Linked DNA regions of Homo sapiens: region 2 is linked to region 1. A link means that fine-mapping ties the variant in region 1 to the expression of a gene that starts in the linked region. Tissue or cell type: whole blood. Region 1 holds a variant in brackets; the other region holds the start of a gene. All regions are shown on one strand. Distances are from middle to middle.

Evidence for each region. PIP is the estimated chance that this variant, and not a neighbour inherited with it, causes the effect.
Region 2: MSH6 starts here. The variant in region 1 is fine-mapped to the expression of MSH6 in whole blood (TOPMed, PIP 0.95).

Annotation. Positions count from the first base shown.
Region 1 is chr2:47,810,827-47,818,826 of GRCh38, forward strand. FBXO11 (F-box protein 11) reads right to left here. Exons shown (of 23, transcript NM_001190274.2): 16 at 7,953-8,000; 17 at 2,965-3,041; 18 at 2,408-2,551. Among named protein-coding and RNA genes, the nearest start is that of MSH6, 32 kb to the left of the region's middle. RefSeq lists enhancers at 5,005-5,074, 5,235-5,284. The variant G/A (reference allele first, on the strand shown) is at 3,875.
Region 2 is chr2:47,778,094-47,787,591 of GRCh38, forward strand. MSH6 (mutS homolog 6) reads left to right here and starts at 5,052. Exons shown (of 10, transcript NM_000179.3): 1 at 5,052-5,400. The coding sequence starts at 5,141. RefSeq lists silencers at 3,293-3,474, 4,625-5,104, 5,385-5,544, 5,745-5,834 and an enhancer at 4,425-4,494.

The DNA of each region.
Region 1 (8,000 bases):
TATTACTATAATCATTTCCTGATGAGTTTCCTTTATTCCAGTTTCATCTGCTGCATAGTTTCCAATCAGTTAACTGCAACTCTTATCATGCCTCTTTCTCTAACAAACTACTTTCAGAATAAAGTTTAATATCACCTTGCCTTTCAAAATATCCCTCCAACCTACTTGTTTGTCTTAATGTGAGACATGGTTTTATTTCTGTAGACATTTAATCCCTCTGGTATTTCACATTATTGACCTAAACTTTCACCTGGATGAGTGGGAAAAATCTGACTCAGTAACTTCTTGGGGTCCTCCTCCTGTTCACTCCCTGGGTATTAATATTTCTGGGTTCTGTCCCTCATTTCCCTCTGCATACTCTTTGGGTGATCTTACATCTTGCAACTATTGCATATACACTGTTGCTTTTTAATTTTTGAGACAGAGTCTCACTCTGCCACCCAGGCTGGAGTGCAATGGTGTGATCTTGGCTCACTGCAACCCCTGCCTCCGGGTTCAAGCAATTCTCCTGCTTCAGCCTCCCAAGCAGCTGGGATTACAAGCACCTGCCACCACACCTGGCTAATTTTTGTATTTTTAGGTTTCACCATGTTGGCCAGGCTGGTCTCAAACTCCTGACCTCAAATGATCCACCCACCTGGGCCTCCCCCAAAGTGCTGGGGTTACAGGCATGAGCCACTGCACCCGGCCACTGTTGCTAATTCTTTAATCTATTCCTTTAGCTTAGTATAATGAATCACATTCTGGTCATAACCAATTTGGATATTCCAGAAGACAACCTTGGATTCAGTGTTTAAAAACTGACCTTACTAATGTTTTCCAGAAACCATTTCCTATATAACTTACCTCAGTGAAAGGTAGTCACCCACCCAAATCAGAATCCTGAGCACCCATCATATTTCACTTTACTTTCAACCCCCATATTAAATCAATGACCCAGTCCTGTTGGTTCCACCCTTTTTATAGAGATACGGTCTTACTACATTGCCTAGGCTGGTTTCCAACTCCAGACTCAAGTGATACTCCTGCCTTAGCCTCCAGAGCAGCTGGAAGTACAGGTGTGAGCCACTGTGCCCAGTTGGTTCTGTCCTTTTAAGTATCATTAACATGTCCCACCCCCTGCCCCCCCAACCTTTTCACACCCTTATGCTATCATTTTAGTTTAGGCTCTCATTATTTATTGCCTGAGTTATTCCAAGTCCCTGTCTCTAATCTTGATTATTTCCACTACACCTCAAGTGCTATTGCTAAGATGGATTCCAAACTCCTTACTGCATATGGAAAACCTCATGATTTGGGCCTTGCCCCTTCTGTAGCCTCAATTTTCTGTACCTCTTCCCTTACTTTCAGTTTCCTCTAGACTTTTGTTTACGATGTGCTCCACTCCATCACACTATACATTTTATGGATGTGCTGTTTCATTTAGCATATCTCTAGCATCTGTATCATAGTAGTTGGTACAGAGGTGTTAAATCAGTATCTAAAGAATAAAAGTGAAATAACATCTGGAATGGTCTGTTCGCCTCTCCCAAACCCAATTGCCAGTAAATATCTACTCATTTTTCAAAACACGGCTCAAAAGTGATTTGACTTGCGTGAACCATTTCTCAACACCTTGCAAATAAACCATTCTGTATTGTGTGTCTTCACTATATTTTGTGAAAACTATCTGAGATACGTCACTTTACTGAATTACTAGATTATAAGCTCCTGGAGAGTCTGTCAATGGAATCATCACTGCTTGGCTGTGGTATTAAATTTTGTTCATTAAATCTTGGCATGTTAGAGTAATAACTAGCTATTCTATGTAAGATATGTACAAATGTTGGGTTATTGACATTTCAGGAACAGCGATAGATTTGCATTTGGCAGCTCTGTGAATCTCTGTATACATGCATCTGTAAGGGGCAGGCACTATGGAACTTTTGCCTCAATGCAAAGTGAGTTGACCTTTATGAATACCAAACCAGGCACATCTTGGCTTCATTAATTCCACTCTCCAACAAACACAGTTGAAAACAGTTACAAAAGCAATACCCGTTTACTAAAGACATTTTCAGATATTTACAGATCAATTTCTCACATCTATTTCTATAACTTGACTTTGAAGTTTATTATAATCATATTACTATTCTGAATTTTAAAAGGTCCAGAGAATGTAAACAAATTCTATCTTTAAAAAGGCTTACTGACAACTGCAGACTCAAAGTGGCTACAAAAGGAAAAGTATTGTAAACATTTGTCTCTTAACTCTAGGCACTAATCTCCTAAACCAGTTCAACTTGATAAGGAAAAAGACTTGAGATTCACTCATTTATAACTTAGTTAGCAATGTCATTGATCATTAAAGATATGGAAGAATAATGGAAAACTGGATTTTTCACTAATGCAAAATTAACAACAATACCTCGACCCCCATTAAATATACAGATGCCACCATCTCTTCCATCATGGATTTTATTTCTTCTTAGTGTAGGATTACTATCTGTCTTAATCCAGACTCCAGCCATTGCATTGTCAAATATTTCATTGTCTTCTATACAGCCTAGACCTATAAATGCAAAAATGTAGGTTATCTAGAAGGTATATTTCTTTTTAATTTTTTTTTTTTTTTTTTTTTTTGAGACAGAGTCTCGCTCTGTTGCCAGGCTGGAGTGTGCAGTGGCGCGATCTTGGCTCACTGCAACCTCCACCTCCCGGGTTCAAGTGATTCTCCTGCCTCAGCCTCCCAAGTAGCTGGGAATACAGGCGTGTGCCACCATGTCCAACTAATTTTTGTAATATTTAGTAGAGACAGGGTTTCACCATGTTGGCCAGGCTGGTCTTAAACTCCTGACCTCGGGTGATCCACCCATCTCGGCCTCCCAAAGTGCTGGGATTACAGGCGTGAGCCACCGTGCCCGGCCTAGAAGGTGTATTTCTAAAGTTTATTAACACAGAAAAAAGATGACAGATTAAACATACCAGAATTATAAACTAGAATTCCACCATTCTGTCCTCCCCAGATTTTGTTGCGTCTAATTTTGGGGTTGCTTCCAGTCCTGTAAACAGAATAGACAATAATACCATTTCAATAGCTTCTACTCCCATATCTTCATGTTACGTGAGGTAAACAGTGGAGAAATCCACATAAGTCACTTAGTAAGAATTAACTATACAATGGAGTCCAAGATGCCCTGAGAAGAAAGTGGTTTAATTTTGCTTAATCCTGTATTTCCCACAGAACATACTTTACTACAGATTATTATTGTAGAGTTTCCTAACATGTAAACTAAATGGGGTTATATTAAGTGACATATATTCCCCTCATATGTAAAATGAAGGACTGAATTACAGGCATGCCTTGGAGATAACTGCAGGTTCCGTTCCAGACCACCATAATAAAGCGAGTATTGCAATAAAGAGAGTCGCATCAATTTTTTGGTTTACATTATACTGTAGTCTATTAAGTATGCAATAGCATTTCATAAAAAAAAGCACATACCCTAACTTAAAAATACTTTATCGCTAAAAAAATGCTCATAACAATCTAAGCCTTCAGGGAGTCTTTTTTTTTTTTTTTTTTTAAAGACATGGGGTCTTGCTCTGTCACCCAGGCTGGAGTTGCAGTGGCATGATCATAGCTCACTGCAGCCTCGAACTCTTGGGCTCAAGCAATCCTCCTGCCTAAGCCTCCCGAGTAGCTGGGACTACAGGTGCACACCACCATGCCCAGTTAATTTTTGTATTTTTTGTAGAGATGGAGTTTTGCCATGTTGCCCAGGCTGTTCTCAAACTCCTGGGCTCAAGTGATCCACCTGTCTCAGTCTCCCAAAGTGCTGGGATTACAGGCATGATCTACTGCACCTGACCAACTGGCAATCTCTTAAAATAA[G/A]ACAATTAAGTTTGCCACATAGACTGACTCTTCCTTTCACGGAAGATTTCTCTGTAGCATGCAATGTTGTTATAGCATTTTGCTCACAGTAGAATTTCTTTCAAAATTGTTGTCAATCCTTGCCAACCCTGCTACTACTTTATTAACAGGCTTATGTAATATTCTAAATCCTTTGTCTTCATTTCAACTATGTTCACAGCATCTTCAACAGGAACAGACCCCACCTCAAGAAAAACCACTCTTTGCTCATCCGTAAGAAGCAACTCCTCATCTGTCCAAGTTTTATCATGAGGTTGCAGCAATTCAGTCACATCTTCATGTTCCATTTTCTAATTCTACTTCTCTTGCAATTTCTACCACGTCTGGAATTAGTTCCTCCACCAAAGTCTTATACCCCTAAAGTCATCCATGAGGGTTGGAAGCAACTTCTTCCAAACTCCTGTTAATTTTTTTTTGTCCTGGCCATAAAAACGTTTATTTTTGTATTTAGGTTTGATGAATGAACATCCACGCAGAAATGTGATTGGACACAAAGGATCTGGCCTAACGGTGATGGACAGAGTCGGGAAACCCAGCAAAGCCGCTCTGTACAATTCCCCTTCCCCTGGGTATCCCCCTCGGGAATGAGGATCTTCCAGGGAGAAGGGAGAGAGTGACCTAGCTAGGTTTTATGGCTGGGTTTGAGAGAAAGGAATTCTAGTTTCTAAGACCTGCTTTGAGGAAAAGGAATTCTGGTTTCTGGGACTCAATTTGGGGGAGAAAAGGAGGCAGGAACCAGGAGGGAAGGACAAAGACCTGGCTTCTGAGGCCTTCCAGTCTCCTCTGGGTCAGAGTAGTCCGCATGCCAAGGTGCCATACTTCGGGGTTTAATGAGCCCTGACAGCAGGTCCTTGCAGATTTCACAGGTAACTTGTGATCCAAGTAACTGGCTTTCAGACCCCCAATTTCAGAGGACTTTAGCAAAGCCTGGTTGAAATTGGCCAAGTGTTAGAAGAACCTCTTCAAAGCTGAAATTCATAGAGTTCTTCAGCTGAGGGCGTAAGAATCCCAGATGTAAGGTTAGCGAGAGTTAGAAGTTCTGGAGTCTTCCCCGCATGCCCCAGCTCTTGAGCATCAACGGGCCAGAAGCTCACAATATCTGATCCTCCTGTGGCTCAGCAGGGATGTGTTTTAGAGCAGCATGTTCAGAATGAAACTGGCGCACTTAGTCAAGCCTCGAGGGCCTTTTGAAGCCATGCATGGCCCACGCTGGCCTCATGGGAACACAGGTGCTCCAGCACCCGATGTGTTCACGACTAGGTAGGGGGAACCTTCAGCCCTGAAAACATCCCCCTGCTGTCTAGATCAGCCTGCCCCATGGCCAAGGGCGGTGAGAACCCTGGCGACCCCTTGGGTTGCACCTCTGCCAGTACTACAATTTTGCACTTTGTGGGCAGAAAAGCTCAACATTTGGCTCAGGGCATAACTGCAATTTTTTTTTGTTTTGTTCTGTTTTTTGAGACAGGGTCTCACTCAGTCATCCAGGCTGGAGCACAGTGGTATAATCATAGCTCAGTGCCGCCTCGACTTCCTGGGCTCAAGCGATCCTCCCACCTCAGCCTTCCGGGTAGCTGGGACCACAGGCGCATGCCACCATGCCTAGCTAATTTTTTCTATTTTTTACAGAGACAGGGTTTTGCTATGTTGCCCAGGCTGATCTTGAACTCCTGGCCTCAGGAGATCCTTCCACCTCAGCCTCCCAAAATGCTTGGATTACAGCACTTTTTCAGATCTCCTCCCAGGAATCATGAATGTTCTTAATGAAATCTGGAATGGTGAATCCTTTCCAGAGGTTTTCAATTTACTTTGCCCAGATCCATCAGAGGAATCACTATCTATGGCAACTACTGCTTTCTAAAAAGTATTTCTTACATACAAAGACTTAAAAATTGAAATCACTCCTTGATCCAGACTGTGGGATGGATGCTGTATTAGCAGGCGTGAAAACAACAATCTCCTTGTGCATCTGCATCAGAATTCTTGGGTTACTGGGTGCATTGTCAATGAGCAGTAATATTTTGAAATATTTTTTCTGAGCACTAGGTCTCAGTGGACTTAACATATTCAGTAAACTGTACTGTAAATTCATGTGCTATCATCCATGATTTGTTGTTCCCTTTATAGCGCACAGGCAGAGTAGATTTAGCATAATTCTTAAGGGCCCTAGGGTTTTCATAATGGTAAATGAGCACTGCCTGCAACTTAAAGTCATCAGCTTAACTAACCCTTAACAAGAGATCAGCTTGCCCTTTGAAGTCAGGCATTGACTTCTCCCCTCTAGCTATGAATGTTCTGGATGCATCTTCTTCCAATATAAAACTATTGAGTCTACACTGAAATCTGTTTAGTGTAGCCACCTTCAACAATGATCTTAGCTATATCTTCTGGGATAACTTTCTGTAGCTTCTATCTCAGCATTTGCTGCTCCACCTTGCACTTAGCTTTTTTTCTTAAACCTCATGAATCAACCTCTGCTAGCTTCAAACTTTTCTTCTGCAGCTTCTTCACCTCTTTCAGCCTTCATAGAACTGAAGAGAGTTGGGTCCTTGCTCTGGATTAGGAATTGGCTTAAGGGAATGTTGCGGCTGGTTTGTTCTTCTATCCACATCACTAAAACATTCTCCATATTAGCATAAGTCCATTTTTTTGTTATTATTTTATTTTGCTTTGAACCCTGAGAAACTAAGCAATAAGGTTGTTTTGCTTTGCTTTATCATTCATGTGTTTACTGGAATAGCATTTTTAATTTCTTTCTAGGACTTTTCCTTTGCATTCACAACTTAGCTAACTGGACAAGAGGCCTAGCTTTTGGGCTATTCAGCCTTTAGACATACTTTCCTCACTAACCTTCATCATTTCTAGCTTTTGATTTAAAGTGAGAGATACGCAACTCCTCCTTTCACTTCAATACTTATAGAGGCCATTTGAGGATTACTAATTGGCCTAATTTCGATACTGTTGTGTCTCAGGCAATAGGGAAGCCTGAGGAGAGGGACAGAGATGGGAATGGCTGCTTGGTGGAACAGTCAGAACACACACAACGTTTACAGATGAAGTTTGTTATCTTGGGCGCAGTTAATGGTGTCCCAAAACAATTACAATAGTAACATCAAAGATCACTGATCAGGGTGGGTGTGGTGGCTCACGCCTGTGATCCCAGCACTTTGGGAGGCTGAGGCGGGTGGATCACCTGAAGTCAGGAGTTTGAGACCAGCCTGACCAATATGGAGAAACCCCATCTCTACTAAAAATACAAAGTCAGCCAGGCATGGTGGCACAAGCCTGTAATCCCAGCTACTTGGGAGGCTGAGGTTGCGGTGAGCCGAGATCGTGCCATTGCACTCCAGCCTGGGCAACAAGAGTGAAACTCCGTCTCAAACAAACAAAAAGGATCACTGATCAGAGATCACCATAACAGACATAATGATAATGAAAAAATGAGACACAGAGACAGGAAGTGAGCACATGCTGCTGGAAAAAAATGGCAGAGAGATCTGCTCAACACAGTATTGCCACAAAACTTCAATTTGTGAAAAAACACAGTATCTGTGAAGCACAATGAACTGTAAAGTGTAATAAACAGAGGTAAGCCAGTATATGATCATTAGTACTGCTAGAATTCCAAAAACTTAAAATATTAGAGGGGTATCAAAAACTATTAATTTTACAGAAATAGCATAAAACAGAAGCTTCATTTTATTGAGTGCCAATGATATGCCAGGCATAATGCACAAGTATTTTAACACAGACTTCCACTCTCCAAGTATGAAGGATCATATTGGCAGCTGATGTGACTCTCATAGTGGAAAGCAGAACGGTGGAAGTGAGCTCTTATGGCACATGTGCCAGTGGCTTCTGTCCTCACCTAGACCAAGGAAAGCTACATTCTGACAATTTAAGTCAAGATTATTTTAAGAATGTGAATATATATACAATAGGGGGATAAAGATTGGGCATTAAACAATAAGCAAATTTCTTTTACACACCCCACATACTCCTAACTCCCTCCCAAAAGATAGCCAAATATGAAAACATTTACCTTATCTGAACCCCTGAATACATATGATTATAGATATCATTGTCTTCT
Region 2 (9,498 bases), 32 kb before region 1:
CACCACTCCTGGCTAAATTTTTTAAATGTTTTTGTAGAGAAGGAGGCGGTTCTCACTATGTTGCTAGCTGGTCTTGAACTCCTGGCCTCAAGTCATCCTTCTGTCTTGGCCTCCCAAAGTGTTGGGATTGTAAGTGTGAGCCACTGTCCCTGGCCAGTTGGTGATTTATTTGTATAACTGTCCAATTTATTGAATACGTATGGCGTGCCAAGCACTGGGCTGAGGGCTTCATAATGCCCTTTCACTCAATGCTTAGCACAACCCATGAAGAAGGTAGTGTTAATATCATCCCTGTTTTACAGATGTAGAAACTGAGGCACAGGCTAAATAACTTGCCCAACAAGCTCGTGCAGTTTAGTAAGCAGCTCAGCTGGGATGTGAACACAAACTTTGAATACAGAGCTCTTAACCAGTAGGCCAGAGGTTCCCAAACACCTAGTATATTTACTACCTTAGTACTTTCCTGCCACATCTCCTAGGCCAAAACAACTCCATTGATTGTTATGCAATTTACTAAGTGTAGCCATTTGAAAAAAAAATACATATAAAAGAAAAATATTTTTATTCAGTTTTCAAAATAACCCATATATAGTCATGGAATGTATGTGTTGGTTGGGCACTGCAGACTAAAGACAGTTTAGGGCCGGGCACGGTGGCTCAGGCCTGTAATCCTAGCACTTTGGGAGGCCAAGTAGAGAGAAGGGCTTGAGCCCAAGAGTTGGAGACCGGCCTGGGCAACATAGCAAGACCCAGTCTCTACAGAAAATAAAATTATCAGGGTGTGAGGACGCACACCTGCAGTCTTAGCTGCTTGGGAGGCTGAGGCTGGAGGATCAGCCTGGGCAACAGAGTGAGACCCTGTCTCAGAAAAAAAAAAAAAAAAAGACAGACTTTTATTCAGATATGCATGCAGGAGTTCACAGAAAAAAAAAGTGAGTCCAGGAGGCTGTTATTTGGCATTTATACAACTTTTTTTTTCTTGAATCTCGAAATCTACTTTATATATACCATTTAATAGGGGAAGAGGAGGGAGAAAAAGCCTTCCATGGGAAGAACAAATAGGTTTCTGGGGGAACAAAAGGGAGATAAGAATGTTTGTTTTTGCAGGTGCAAGTGGTCTTTGTCTTTTTTTCTGGCCACTAAAACTCCCCTAGAGAGGAGATTTACGGCAGCTTCACTCCCAGAAATTTCTGCTGTTAGTCGCATAAGGGAAGCTTTGAAACGGCATCTTTCTGCATCTGTTGGCTCTCAAATGTCTTCAGTTCCAAGTAACATTCATGCCAATTCTGGGGGTCTGAGTGTCCCCACATAATACATGTGTTCTCTTGTCTTTTAATGAAGTTTGTGGGAGGCATCTAACTGTAGCCTCCAAAATTTGGCCCATAGGTACTACTGTCCTTATCAAAGACGAGGAAACAAGTTCAGAAAAGTATTAATTGCTCCGAGTTATCTGCTTGGCTAGCTAGGATCAGAGCTCAGTTCTCCATTTAACCCAAAGCCCAGGCTCTTAACCTCTTACAACTGGCGCATCCCCTCTGAACCTCCATTTCCTCCCTGTAAAAGAATAACATCGGCCGGGCGCAGTGGCTCACATCTATAATCCCAGCACTTTGGGAGGCAGAGATGGGCGGATCACGAGGTCAGGAGTTTGAGACCAGCCTGGCCAACATGGTGAAACCCCATCTCTACTAAAAATACAAAACTTAGCTGGGTGTGTTGGTGCCTGTAACCCCAGCTACTCAGGAGACTGAGGCAGGAGAATTGCCTTAACCTGGGAGGCGGAGGTTGTGGTGAGCCAAGATCGTGCCATTGCACTCCAGCCTCGGTGACAGAGCAAGACTCCATCCCCAAAAAAACAAACAACAACAACAAAAAGAGAATAACGTTATATTCAGTTGAACCAAAATGAATTAAATATTAATATTTGTACTTCAAAAACGGTCCAGCTTGGCTGGGCGCAGTGGCTCCCGCCTGTAATCCCAACATTTTGGGAGGCCGAGGCAGGAGGATCATTTGAGGTCAGGAGTTTGAGACCAGCCTGGCCAACATGGTGAAATCCTGTCTCTACTAAAAATACAAAAATTAGCTGGGCAGTAGTAGCGCGTGCCGGTAATCCCAGCTATTCAGGAGGCTGAGGAAGGAGAATTGCTTGAGCTTGGGAGGTGAAAGTTGTGGTGAGCTGAGACTGCACTACTGCACACCAGTCTGGGAGACAGAGTAAGACCCTGTCTCAAAACAAAACAACCAAAAAACCAAAAAGGTCCAGCTTGGGCAACATAGTGAAACTTCGTCTCTACAGAAAATTTTTAAAATACTAGCAGGGCACCGGGCACAGTGGCTCATACCTGTAATCCCAGCACTTTGGGAGGCTGAGGCAGGCGGGTCACTTGTGGTCAGGAGTTTGGGATCAGGCAGGCCAACATGGTGAAACCGTGTCTCTACTAAAAAACAAAAATTAGCTGGGCATGGTGGTAGGCACCAGTAATCCTAGCACTCAGGAGGCTGAGGCATGAGAATTGCCTGAACCCGCAAAGCAGGGGTTGCAGTGAACCAAGATGGCGTCACTGTACTCCAGCCTGGGTGACAGAATAAGACTCCTCAATTAAAAAAAAAAAAAATTAGCTGGGCATGGTGTTGCGGGCCTGTGGTCCCAGGTACTCAGGAGGCTGAGGTGAGAGGATTACTTAAGCCTGGGAGGTTGAGGCTACAGTAAGCCAAGATCACGCCACTATACTCCAGCCTCTGTGACAGAGCCAGACCCTGTCTCAAAAAAATTTTAAAAAGGGCAAATTTTGGCAATTTCACATAGTTCAACCTAGTATAAGGTGGTTGTAATAACTAAATGAGATAAAATGGTGTTAAATTGGAAGTATTATAGTATTTCTGTTAACAACATAGGGCTCCAGAACCAGCTTCCTTGAGTTTAAATCCAGGCTCCACCACTTCCTAGCTATGCAGTCATGGGCAAGTTACTTGACCCAACTGTGCCTCAGCTTCATCCATGATATGGAGATACAGGATAACCAGCCTCTTACGTGCAATTCTGAAATCCAAAAAGCTCTGTAAACCAAAAGTTTGGGGGTAAACTCATTTGGTAGCAAATTTTGACCTGAGGCTATTTATAGTCTATATTCTGTATTCTTTCTACTTAGTATGAATAAGCATGTAAGTTTTACTGCATGTTTGATTTCAGCATGTTCCCCCAGACTCTCTGGGGGTGTTTACGTATGCCGGTGGGGGAAAGAGACCAACTCTCAAATATTATCTCAAACAGTTGGTTTCACTGTGCTTGCTTGGGTAGCACATATACCAAAATTGGAATGACCCCTGCACAGGGATGAAATGCAAATTCGTGAAGCATACTGTATTTTTCTTAGCACATACCACCTTTGGCAATATTCTTTTTTTTTTTTTGAGAGGGAGTCTTGCTCTGTCGCCCAGGCTGGAGTGCAGAGGCGCGATCTCGGCTCACTGCAAGCTCCGCCTCCCGGGTTCACACCATTCTCCTACCTCAGCCTCCCCAGTAGCTGGGACTACAGGCGTGTGCTACCACGCCAGGCTAATTTTTTGTATTTTTAGTAGAGGCGGGGTTTCACTGTGTTAGCCAGGATGGTCTCGATCTCCTGACCTCGTGATCCGCCCACCTCCGCCCCCCCCCCGAAGTGCCGAGTGCTGGGACTACAGGCGTGAGCCACTGCGCCCGGCCCCCGCCTTTTTTTTTTAGATTGATTTTATTACTTGCCTAGCAAAGGAGAACCTTCTGGCAGAACAGTCTCCAAGAACAAGGCAAACAACTAATTTTACATAGGTTTTTACCAATGTACAGCTGTTGATTGTGACTGGTTTCCGGCAATCTGGATTTCACAATCTGGATAAGGGGACAAACAATTGTCTGTCTTCCACTATCTTTCTTGAATTTGAATAGAACCTTTTTATTCTCATAGCCTCTTAGCTTTCTTTCTTTTTTTTTTGAGACGGAGTTTCGCTCTTGTCGCCCAGGCTGGAGTGCAGTGGCGCGACCTTGGCTCACTGCAAACGCTGCCTCCCAGGTTCAAGTTATTCTCCTGCCTCAGCCTCCCAAGTAGCTGGGATTACAGGCGCATGCCACCACGCCCGGCTAATTTTTGGATTTTTAGTAGAGACGGGGGTTTCACCATGTTGACTAGGCTGGTCTTCAACGCCTGACCTCAGGTGATCCGCCCGCCTCGGCATCCCAAAGTGCTGGGATTACAGGCGTGAGCCACTGCGCCCGGCCTCTCATAGTCTCTTAGCTTTCTAAAATTTGAAAAATCCTGTAAAGACACACCTGGGTCAAAGGGCTCAGATAACGGACTGTGGCCCTTAAGTACTTACGTCACAGGTTATTGAGAGGATCGATTTAGTTACCAGATGTAAAATGCTGGGATCAGTGCCTGGCAAAGGAAAACTTTGTACAGCTGCAGGCTTTCACCATACACAACAGCATCGCTAACGAATGCTATTACAATATTCATTTAGCGTTTACCAAGTGCCTACTCTATACAAATCTTGAGAATACAACGTGAAGGTGAACTGCTGACTAAAGTTTGGTCCCTTTCGCTCCGTCTCCTTGCGAAAATGCTCTAACGGCAGGAGGTCACGCGAGCGCTGGACGCGTTTCTCCCCGCGAGCCCCTTTCCGAGGCCTTTCGGGTCCCCCCGGTTATCCCCGCCCGGGCGGTGCGCGCCCCCGCTGTTCCCGCTTCCGCTCCAGAGAGGCAGGGCTTTCCGAGCCTGCTAGCCCCGCGGCCGCAACTAACCCCGGGTCGGAGTGTTCCGGCCCGGCCAGCCCCGCGGCGTGAGGGAAGGGGAGCTCAGCAGTTCCCCGCGCGGGGCCCAGGCGTCGGCGGCAGGGCGGGCCCCTCACCGCCAGCGTGCCAGCCCCGCCCCTACCCACCAGTGTGCCAGCCCCGCCCTTCCCCACGTCGCCGCGCGCCCGGGGGCGGGGCCTGGCGCGCACCGCCCGCGCACGGCGAGGCGCCTGTTGATTGGCCACTGGGGCCCGGGTTCCTCCGGCGGAGCGCGCCTCCCCCCAGATTTCCCGCCAGCAGGAGCCGCGCGGTAGATGCGGTGCTTTTAGGAGCTCCGTCCGACAGAACGGTTGGGCCTTGCCGGCTGTCGGTATGTCGCGACAGAGCACCCTGTACAGCTTCTTCCCCAAGTCTCCGGCGCTGAGTGATGCCAACAAGGCCTCGGCCAGGGCCTCACGCGAAGGCGGCCGTGCCGCCGCTGCCCCCGGGGCCTCTCCTTCCCCAGGCGGGGATGCGGCCTGGAGCGAGGCTGGGCCTGGGCCCAGGCCCTTGGCGCGCTCCGCGTCACCGCCCAAGGCGAAGAACCTCAACGGAGGGCTGCGGAGATCGGTAGCGCCTGCTGCCCCCACCAGGTAGCGGGGTGGGGGTGGGGTCGAAGGCGGGGGCATAGCGGCGGGGCGCTTGGAACCCGGCGAGGGGAGGCTCGCACAGGGGGTTGGGGGGGTGCACGGCCTGGCCCTGGGCTCGGAGGAGGCGGGGCCGCAGAGTTGGCTTGAATGAGTGCAGGGGTCGAGTCTGGAGCATTTGGGGGTGTAGCTTGTAAACAGGGTCGGAGGAGAGAGGCTGTGCAGGAAGAGGGCTGCAGGGGAGACGCGGAGAGTTCGGGCCTTTTGGAGGGAGGAGACGCGTCCCGCCAGGTGGGGGTGCTGGGCTAAGGAAGGGGCGACGCGCGCAGCTCCGGGTGGGGAGGGGGCCTGGGAGGTGGGAGCACTGGGGGTGGGGCGAGAAGGGGAAGGCGCCCGGCCCACTTGGTGGGCGGGGCGGGGGGCGGGGTGGCGGGAAGGAGGAATGCCTGCGGGAGGCCGAACGGGGAGAGTCCGGTGGTGTGGGGTGCGAAAGGAGGTTCCTCGGCCGGCGCGGAGATAGTGAGTTGGGGCTCCAGTAGTCGATCGAGGTAGACACTTAGAGGTAGTTAAGAGCCGCGGTCGCCGAGACGCCTTGGGGACGGTGGGCCTTCGGCCTAGGTGAGGGGCCGCCGAGGGGGTGGGCCACGAGCTGCGAGCGCGGGGGGGTGTGTCACCATGGGGACCGCGGGGCCTAATTGGGCGGGGCGGGGCCGTGGGGAGCCGAAGTGCTGGGATCCGGCTGGGTCCTTCGGTAGGTAGGCTGCACGTGCACCGAGACGAAGATAGAATATTTTGACGTATGTGGAAATTCGTGTCGAGTGGAAAATATTTTATTTTATGAAATAGTGTAATTTTTATGGGGCACCACTGGGCTTTTAGAGGCCTTAATCGGGCGCTGGACAAAGATGTGTGGACGTGAGTGACTCCGGGGAAGCCTGTCGGGAGTTGTCCTCACTTTATGGGCAGTTAAGTGCTTTTTTTTTTTTTTCCTTTTTGAGAGAGAGTTTCGCTCAAGTCCAGGCTGGAGTGCAATGGCGCGATCTCAGCTCACCGCAATCTCCGCGTCCCGGCTTCAAGCGATTCCCCAGCTTCAGCCTCCCGAGTAGTCGGGATTACAGGAATGCGCCCCCACACCCCGCCAATTTTGTATTTTTAGTAGAGACGGGGTTTCTCCATGTTGGTCAGGCTAGTCTCGGAATTCCCGACCTCAGGTGATCCACCCGCCTCGGCCTCAAAGTGCTGGGATTACAGGCGCTAGCCACCGCGCCCGGTCTGTTTAGGGCTTTTTATCCGGGCAGCTGGCGACATTTTGAAAAGCTTGCTTTTGCTGTTTGCCAGATACATATATATGTATTTTGAGACAGAGTCTTGCTCTTTTGTCCAGGCTAGAGTGCAGTGGCGCGTTCTTGGCTCACCACAACCTCTGTCTCTGGATCAAGAGATTATCCTGCCTCAGCCTCCCAAGTAGCTGGGACTACAGGTGCGCCCCACCACGCCTGGCTAATTTTTGTATTTTTAGTAGAGACGGGTTTCACTATGTTGGCCAGGCTGGTATCGAACTCCTGACCTCTTGATCGGCCCGCATTGGCCTACCAAAGTGCTGGGATTACAGGCATGAACCACCGAGCCCGGCCGTTTGTCAGATACTAAACACAAAGTTTAATGGTCGCTATTTGAACAAACGAAGAAATAAAGGCTCAGAAAAAATAACTCATTCAAGATAAGAGCCAGTTCGTGTTTTTTGTTTGGTTTTGTTTTGAAATGGAGTCTCGCTCTGTCGCCCAGGCTGGAGTGCTGTGGCGCTTTCTCGGCTCACTGCAACCTCTGCCCGCCGGGTTCAAGTGATTCTCCTGCCTCAGCTTCCCGAGTAGCTGGGATTACGGGTGTGCCCACCGCGGTCCGGCTGATTTTTCACCATGGAGTTTCACCATGTTGGCCAGGCTGGTCTTGAAACTGCTGACCTCAAGTGGTCCACCCACTTCAGCCTCCCAAAGTGCTGGGATTACAGGTGTGAGCCACCGTGCCCGGCCGCTAGTTAGTGGTTTTGAGTAATGGATTTCAAATCCATTTAAATCCAGTTTAAAGTGTCCTAAAGGAATTCTGAGATTTTTCTAAGTGTAATTATAGTGTTACCCTTGTTTAAGCGACCCTTTCCCGCAGTTTAAATATATATAGTTGTGCATTAGTAGAATATGCTTGTGGGGAACAGAGCCAGCATCCGCAATAACAAACTCCTGGTTAGAAAAGCATGACGTATTGTTTACTTGAGCATGAATTGATTGTTGAATCCAAACCAAACGGGTGTATTTATTGTAAGGATGTACTTTACATTCATATTGAATAGCGTATGTTATTTGTTTCTTGAGGTTGAGTTTAAGAGACTTGTAAAAATAAAACGTATACATTTCACCTCCCGTTATGGAGAGGATTCCAGGGTATTCAAGAAAGATGGGCATTTGATACTAGGTTTCTAAAGAAACTGCAGTGTCTAGATCACTCTGCCGAGCACAGCATTAGGCATTATGGATCCTGGATACAACCATGAACAGGACAAAGCAAAGAGGCAATTGTAGACTCCAAGTGGAAAGGGGACGGAGAGGATGCGGGTCAGGCTAGGCTCTCAGCTCTGTAAACCGAAACCAGAAGGACAAATAAGCTTAGACAGATTATAGTGAGAGTGGGAAGCTGGTTCAGGAAGAGGAAGGTCTGCAAATTGTGGGTAGGATGAAAGGAGGAGGAGGGAGCATTGGAGAAGTTAAGCAGAGATCCAATCATGAACAGTCTGATGAGCTACAGAGACATTCGGACTTACTCCATGAATCATTTAAGCCTTAAAACATGTTGAGCGTATTTTTTTTTTTTTTGAGACGGAATTTCACTCTTGTTGCCCAAGCTGGAGTGCAGTGGTGTGGTCTCAGCTCACTGCAACCTCCGCCTCCTGGGTTCCAGCGATTCTCCTGCCTCATCCTCTCAAGTACCTGGTATTACAGGTGCCTGCCACCACGCCCAGCTAATTTTTGTGTTTATAGTAGAGACGGGTTTCACCATGTTGGTCAGGCCAGTCGTGAACTCCTGACCTCAGGTGATCCACCCACCTCAGCCTCCCAAAGTGTTGGGATTACAGGCGTGAACCACCGCACCTGGCCGTGAGCCACCGTGTCTGTCCGAGCATCTTTTAATGTTTGTCATTTAGATTTCTTCTTGTGCTGAAGTGTTTGTCTTTTGCTGTTTCTTTTTTTTTTCCTAGTTCTTTGTCATTTGTGTGTGATATAAATGTCTTCTTTCACAATGAGTTCTTTCATTTAGTTTATGGCTTTGTTGTTGTTGTTGAATAATAGAGGTCTCACTTTGTTGCCCAGGCTGGTGTTGAACTCTTGCTCTCAAGCGATCCTCCCACTTCAGCCTCCCAACCTGTTGGGATTACAAGTGTGAGCCACCACACCCAGCCTTATGGCATCTTTCGATGAACAAATTATTGATTATAATGTGGAATTTGTCCTTTTATTTTCTCTGTGGTTAGTGTTTCTATAGGTTTTATTTAAGAAATCCACAGGGAGGCTGGGTGCAGTGGCTCATGCCTGTAAACCCAACACTTTGGGAGGCCAAGGCAGGCCAACATGGCTAGACCCTGTCTCTCCAAAAAATAAGAAAATTAGCCAGGCATGGTGGCGTGTGCCTGTAGTCCCAGCTTCTTGGGAGACTGAGATGGGAGGATCGCTTGAGTCCAGGAGGTTGAGGCTGCAGTAAGCCAAGAGATCATGCCATGCACTCCAGCCTGGGTGGCAGAGTCAGACCCTGTCTGCCAAAAAATAAAATAAAAGTTGGTGAAAATGTTGATTATATATTTTAGGAACAACTAGTAATTGACATCAAAATTATGGGCTAAAGAGAAAGCAAAAATAATGTGATTTTAAACCAGAATTCAAAAGATCTGTTTAGCGTATGTTTAGACAAAGCCATTACTTATTATATCAAAGTTTTAACATTTATTTTGTGAGCTGTCAGCTTTTCCTCTTAACATTTTTCCCCACCGTCTTAAAAAACCCCAAGAATACCGGACATTTAAGACTCACTTAAAGCTTTAAAAGCACTTGCAAAATCCTA